Homo sapiens: one gene and its partner. The protein of the gene in region 2 purifies or fractionates together with the protein of the main gene of each other region. This does not show direct contact. Each region holds a gene or a part of one and is shown on either strand. Other genes may lie near its edges.

Evidence for each region. The genes of interacting proteins can lie anywhere in the genome.
Region 1: the proteins of DEFB121 (region 2) and COL6A2 purify together in Homo sapiens (affinity purification with mass spectrometry; 2 studies listed by BioGRID and IntAct, with this or other methods). This does not show direct contact.

Annotation. Positions count from the first base shown.
Region 1 is NC_000021.9:46,101,112-46,104,611, reverse strand, and holds part of COL6A2 (collagen alpha-2(VI) chain isoform 2C2 precursor), read right to left. Parts: intron 1-3,500. UniProt on the Homo sapiens protein: Collagen VI acts as a cell-binding protein.
Region 2 is NC_000020.11:31,404,193-31,407,631, reverse strand, and holds DEFB121 (beta-defensin 121 isoform 1 precursor), read left to right. Parts: upstream 1-1,416; 5' UTR 1,417-1,479; coding exon 1,480-1,537; intron 1,538-2,546; coding exon 2,547-2,719; 3' UTR 2,720-2,787; downstream 2,788-3,439. UniProt on the Homo sapiens protein: Has antibacterial activity.

The DNA of each region.
Region 1 (3,500 bases), on a different chromosome or scaffold from region 2:
TCTCTGCTCCCTTTGCTCTCTCTTCTTCTGGGGCTCCTACAATGTTTATGTTGGTTTGCTTGATGGTATCCCACAGACCCCTTAGGCTCTGATCACCTTTATTCAATCTTTTTATTTCTGCTCCTCAGACTCAATAATTTCCATTTTTGTATCTTCAAGTTCCCTGATTCTTTATTCTGCCTGCTGAAATCTGCCTTTGCATTTCTCTAGTGAATTTTAAATTTCAGTTATTGTACTTTTCAGCTCCAGAATTTCCCTTTGGTTTCTTTTTAAAATTTCTAGCTTTTTATTGATATTTTCATTTGTTCCTACATTTTCTTTCACTTTCTCCACATTTTCCCTTAGTTATTTGAGTATCTTTAAGATAGTTCTTTCAAAGCCTTTGTCTAGTAGATCTACCACCAAGTCTTTTTCAGTGACAGTTTCTGTTGTTTTTTTTTCCTTTGAAATAGGAAAGTTTCTTTGTATGCCTTGTGAAATCAAAATCTCTTTCTTCCCCAGAGTTTGCTGGTTTTTCTTGTTTTTATAATTTTGATTGTTGCTGTCTCTGTGCTAAGGATCAGCATAAAGTATAAACTTAAGGTCTTCTTAGGTCTTTTCTAAGCCCGTGACTTCCCCTGAGCATGTGCAATGACTTTTTTATTTTCTCCACATATATGGTTGCTTTTGAATGTGCTAGTCTTCAATGTCTACGTCTCAAAAGAGGAAAAAGAGAAAAATGAAGGGAGAAAAGGGTGCCAGCCCTTTAAATCTCCTGGAAGTCACTTCAACCAGACGGAGAAGGGCTTGCAATGACGGGGTTAGTTGCAACAACAAAGTCTGTGTCAATAGATTTTGAAAGATCTACATCATACAAGATATCTTTTCAGACCACAAAGGAGTAAAGTTAAAAATCAGCAACAAGGACATTTAAAAAATCACGAAATTAAACAACACCCTGTTAAATAACCAAGGATCAGAGAAGAAATCACAAGGGAAATTATAAAATACTTAGAGATGAGTGAAAATGAAAACACAAATTTAAAAACTTGTTCGACAGTGAAAGCAGTGCTAAGGGGGAAACTGATGGCTATACATGCTTATATTAAAAAAGACAGGTCTCAAATAGGAGCTTAACCTTACAATGTAAGGAACTAGAAAAAGAACAAGCTAGCAGAAAGAAGGAAAAAATAAAGATCAGAGCAAAGATAAACAAAATGGAGAACAGACAGATAATAGAGAAAATCAATGACAACAAAAGTTGGTTCTTTGAAAAGATAACAGAATTGACCAGCCTTAAGCTAGATTCTAGACTAAGAAAAAAAGAAGAAACTCAAATTACTAAAATTATAAGTGAAAGTGGCAACATTGCTACTAATTCTACAGAAATAAAAAAGATTATAAGAGTGTACTATAAGCAACTATATGTCAACAATTTGAATAACACAGATGGAATGGAAAAATTTCCAGACAGACAAAACCTATCAAGACAAAATCAAATCATGAAGAAATAGAAAATCTGAATAGACATAACTAGTAAGGAGATTGAATCAATACTCAAAAATCTCCTGACAAACAACCTCTGGACCTGATGGCTGCACTGGTGAATTCTACCAAACACATAAAGAACTAACACCAAACCCTCCCAAAATTTTCAAAAAACTTGAAGAGAAGGGAACACTATTTAACTCATTCTTATGAGGCCAGCATTACTCTGATACCAATACCAGACAAAGATATTGCAAGAAAAGAAAACTACAATCCAGTCTTCCTTATGAACATTGATGCAAAAATCCTAAACAAAATACTATTAATAGTAAACTAAATTTGGTATAATTTGATGCAATTAAATGGAATTTAATGAATTGACCAAGTAGGATTTATTTCTGGAGTGCAAGGATAGTTCAACATACAAAAAAAAAAAAATCAATCAATGTAATACACATTAACAGAATGAAGGAGGAAAAAAAACTCACACATGATCATTGCAGTTGATGCAGAGAAACCATATGACAAAATTCAATACCCTTTCATGATAAAAACACTCAACAAATTAGGAATAGAAGGAAACAACCTTAACATAATAAAAGCCATATTATACGAAAAAGCCACAGTGAACATCATACTCAGTGGTGAAAGACTGAAAGCTTTTCCTCTAAGGTCAGAAATAAAGGAAGGATGCCTGCTTTCACTACTTCTATTTAACACTGTACTGGAAGTTCTGGCCAGAGCAATTGGGCAAGAAAAAGAAATTAAAGGCATTCAAATTGGAAAGAAATAAGTAAATTATCTCTGATCACTGATGATATGATCTTGTATGTAGAAAACCCTAAAAATTCCACAAAAACTGTTACAACTAATAAACAAATTCAGCAAAATAGCAGAATACATAGTAAACACATAAAAATCACTTGTATTTCTATTCACTAACAATGAACAATCCAAAGGAAATTAAGAAAACAATTCTATTTACTATAGTATCAAAAATAATAAAATACTTAAAAATTGACTTAGGAGGTGAAAGACCTGTACAATGAGAACTACAAAACATTTCTGAAAGAAATTGAAGAGGACATTTAAAAAAAGACATTCATGTTCATAGATTGGAAGACTTACTATATTAAGATGTCAATACCACCCAAATTGATCTAGAGGTTTAATGTAATCCCTATAAAAATCCCAGTGATTGTTTTTTTTTTCAGAAATAGTGAATAAATCCTAAAATTTAGATGGAATCTCAAGGGACCTCGAATAGCCAAAAAAAAAAAAAAAAAAAAAAAAAAAATCGTGAAAGATAAGAACAAAGCTGGGGGACTCACATGTCCTAATTTCAAAACTTACTACAAAGCTGCAGTCATCAACAGTGTGGCACTGGCATAAAGACAGACATACAGACCAACAGAATAAAACAGAGAGTCCAGAAAGAAACCCTTGCATATATGACTTTCAATCAAGCCGTCAAGACCATTCGATAAAGACAGTCTTTTCAACAAACGGTGCAGAGACAACTAGATATCCACATGCAAAAGAATGAAGTTAGACCCTTACCTAATACCATATACAAAAATTAACTCAAAATGGATCTTTACGTTTTAAGACCTAAAACTTTAAAACCCTTAGAAGAAAACATAAGGTAACACCTTCGTGACATGGGACTGAGCAATGATTTCTTGGGTATGACAATAAGAAAAAATAGATAAATCAGATTACACCAAAATTTAAAAACATTTTTTGCATCTATCTAGTGAAAGGACATCATTAACAGAGTAAAAAGAACCCAGAGAATGAGAGAAAATATCTGTAAACTGTGTATCTAATAAGGGATTAATATCCAGAATATACAGAGAACTCCTAAAATTCAACAACAAAAAACAATCAACTTGATTCAAAAATAGGTCAAGGACTTAAACAGATATTTCTCCCAAGAGATATATAAATGGCCAACAAGCACATGAAAAGATGCTCAACGTCACTAATCATGAGGGAAATGCAAGTCAAAACCACAGTGAGATACCACCTCA
Region 2 (3,439 bases):
GGCTAGATTGCCCTGCTTGAGGCTGGAATGCCTGGGGCAGCTCTGTTTCTCACTGTAGATCTGTGAGTCGCCTGGAGTAGCTGTGCCCCACGTATCTCTCATCCTCCTTGGACCACTGGGGCATGTTCTTCTCATAGTGATGGCAGAGACACAGAAGGGCAAATGAAAATATTCATCATCTCTTAAAACCTAGGCTTACAACCGGCACACCGTCACTTCTGCCCACATATCACTAGCCAAAGCAAATCACATGCCAAGGCCAAAGTGAAGGGAAAATGAAATAGAGTTCTCCTAGGATGAGACCTTGGCAAATGTGTGAATTCAAGTAGGGATGAAGAAGTAGGGCCAAGATTACAATCTACCATTTCTTTCTTTCTTTTTTGAGACAGAGTCTCGCTCTGTTGCCCAGGCTGGAGTGCAGTGGCACAATCTCGGCTCACTGCAACCTCCGCCTCCCGGATTCAAGCTAGTCTCCTGCTTCAGCCTCCTGAATAGCTGGGACTACAGTGGCCAGCCACCACGCCCGGCTAATTTTTTGTATTTTTTTTTGTAGAGACGGGGTTTCACTGAGTTAGCCAGGATGGTCTCGATCTCCTGAACTTGTGATCCGCCTGCCTCGGCCTCCCAAGTTGCTGGGGCAATCTACCATTTCTTATAAGAAAGACCAAGCTGGGCATGATGGCTCATGCCTTTAATCCTAGCACTTTGGGAGGCCAAAGCAGGAGAATTGCTTGAGACCAGGAATTCGAGGTTCCAGTGAGCTATGATTGTGCCACTGCACTCCAGCCTGGGTGACAGAACAAGACTGTCTCAAAAAAATAAGTAATAATAAAAAAAAGACCACAACAATAATAAATGGCTTTTCTTTTGCTACCTATGAGGGTGCTACTTGTTCCTATTAAATATGTACTGTTAAAAGTAAGGGCTATGGCTTTCCTGCTCATTCCACTCCATGAATACTGACATTCTGGTTTCCAGTGGTGATGGCCATGGAGCTATTAAGGTATTTTCCCCTGCTCTGCCCTTCATTTGGTATTATAATGAATCATCAACATATGGGACATCCTAAGATGTCCTTGTTGCTGGGAAGAACCCAAGGCGCAGAGAAGTATCACTCCTTTTCTGTCTTATCTCTTTTTCTCTCTCTTTTTTTCTCATTAATGAAAAACAAATTAGAGATGAAAATATTTTTCCCCTTCTTGGTTCTCCAGCTGTATTATAAAATTCTTCAGAGGCAAGGCCGTATCTTCTCTTTGTTAACGTCCCTTCCCCCTCTCCCAGCCTCCTCAGGCAGTGTGGTTGATACCTTCCTTGCCTGCCTGTCTGATCTCAAATGACTGTTCCCGTTCTGGTTCACTGATCTTGGCTCTGCCATGCTCCTCAAGGCAATAAATACCAGTCTGGACTGCCCAGAATGGAGTCCTCTGTCTGTTTTACCAGTTGAGAAGCCTCCTATCCCTCCCTGATCATTCATCATTCATGAAGCTCCTTCTTCTGCTTTTGACTGTTACTCTGCTCCTGGCCCAGGTCACCCCAGGTAAACAGGATCTCCAGAAGGGGATGGGAGTCAGGAAACCTGATGCATGTTCAGAGAACTCTGGGGACTCTGACAGGTTGGGCTGGGAGAATGGCCTGGTAGAGCTCATTGAGGCCTTTAGGTAGTCTCTCTAGTTATGGGGAAGTTTGAGTTCTCTGGTACCAAATGGTCTTCCCAGTGCCCAGTACTTGACCATTCCAACCTTATCTCTGGTTAGCTCTGGAAAAGCTGAACGTGATGACCTGAGGATGGGATAGGGTGTAAAGAGAGAGACTTGGGTATGGAGTATAGAGAAAATGGGGACTTTTTCAAAAACATTCATTGAAAGGATTTGAATTTTGATGCATTGTTGCCTCTAGGAAAATGGTTCTCAAATTTCTGATTGTTTGAGGATTCTGATTCCACTTTTTAATGCAACCTCAAATCATCTGGGTTACCTTAGGTTGTAGGTTCCCTGGAATAGCTGTTCCTAATTCCCTTGACTGGTTGGGGCCAGAGAAAAGTCCCAGGATGTTGTGAAGAAGGCAGTATGATATTCTTGGGAGTTTTAAAGGTGCCCTAGAAGACTTACAGATGTTAAATGAGTTTATTTAATATTCCTGTCACCTTTCATTGATATGGTCAGAGGGGGTACCAAAGAACAATGAGAAAAGGTGGCTAATTGCTACTGGGCACCTGGGTACATTATAATATGGGGGAGATAAAACCCTTGGGAGAGGGGTCCTCTTCCCCCTCCCAAGGAGCTGGCCAAGGAGGGGAAGCTATCCAGTAGGTCCTATGCCACTGAGTTGGGGGGACTCTGGGGGTTCTAACAGGGGGCACAAGTGAAGGAAGAAAGCGTAGTGGTCTATAATCTCCCTTAAACTTAGGGGATCCTGTGTAAGAGCTTCTTCCCCACAGACCTCCTCATTTCCCTCCTACTCCTCTACTGGGCTTTAGCCTCTTCCTTTCACACCTTTCTGCTTTCTTTCAAAACTGACTCTATTCTCTTCTTCCCTTTTGTTTTCAGTCATGAAATGTTGGGGCAAGTCAGGCAGGTGCAGAACAACATGTAAAGAAAGTGAAGTATACTATATATTATGCAAAACTGAGGCTAAGTGCTGTGTGGATCCCAAGTATGTACCTGTAAAACCAAAATTAACAGACACAAATACAAGCCTGGAATCAACTTCTGCAGTCTGACACCTCTCTTCCAACCTTGAGTCTCAACATCATGGGATCCTGCAGTTCTATTAAATCATTCTTGGCAACACCCTGTTTCTGTCTGATAGTTCCACCTAGTTACATTTAGAAACAAGTAAATAAAGAAGAAAGGTTGTGTGCGTGTGTGTGTGTGTGTGTGTGTGTGTGTCCGGTGTGCATGTTAGGAAGAACAGGATGGACCAGTAGGTGGTAACAATCTAAACCTTGCAAATAGCTCCTAGCCTGCTGACCCATAGCTGGTCCAAGAGGGCATGAATTAAAGAATATTCATTATATCTACTTGATTCCTGTTTTCTTCTAGACCAGCACTGCCAATAGAACATTCTGCCATGATGGAAATATTTCCTGTCTATGTTGTTCAATATGGTAGCTACTAGCCACATGTGGCTACTGAGCACTTGAAATGTGCCCAGTGTGAATGCGGACCCGAAGTTTTAATTTGATTCAATCGAGCTTTAAATTTATATAGCTAAATGTGGCTAGTGGTGATTGTATTGTATAGCAATGGCTTTAGAGTCTAGGCTGAGGCATGCTGTGGGTCTCAATCTATGAGTATTTTAGGGGAGTCCAGGAGGCAAGTATGATGAACACAAGAACCCATTCTTGGCCCATGGCCTCTTTCTACTCCCACACCAAAGGTTATAACTTTCCCTTGATCACACCTGCAGTTCTGCCCCTCAGGGGCTCTAGGGCAATGCC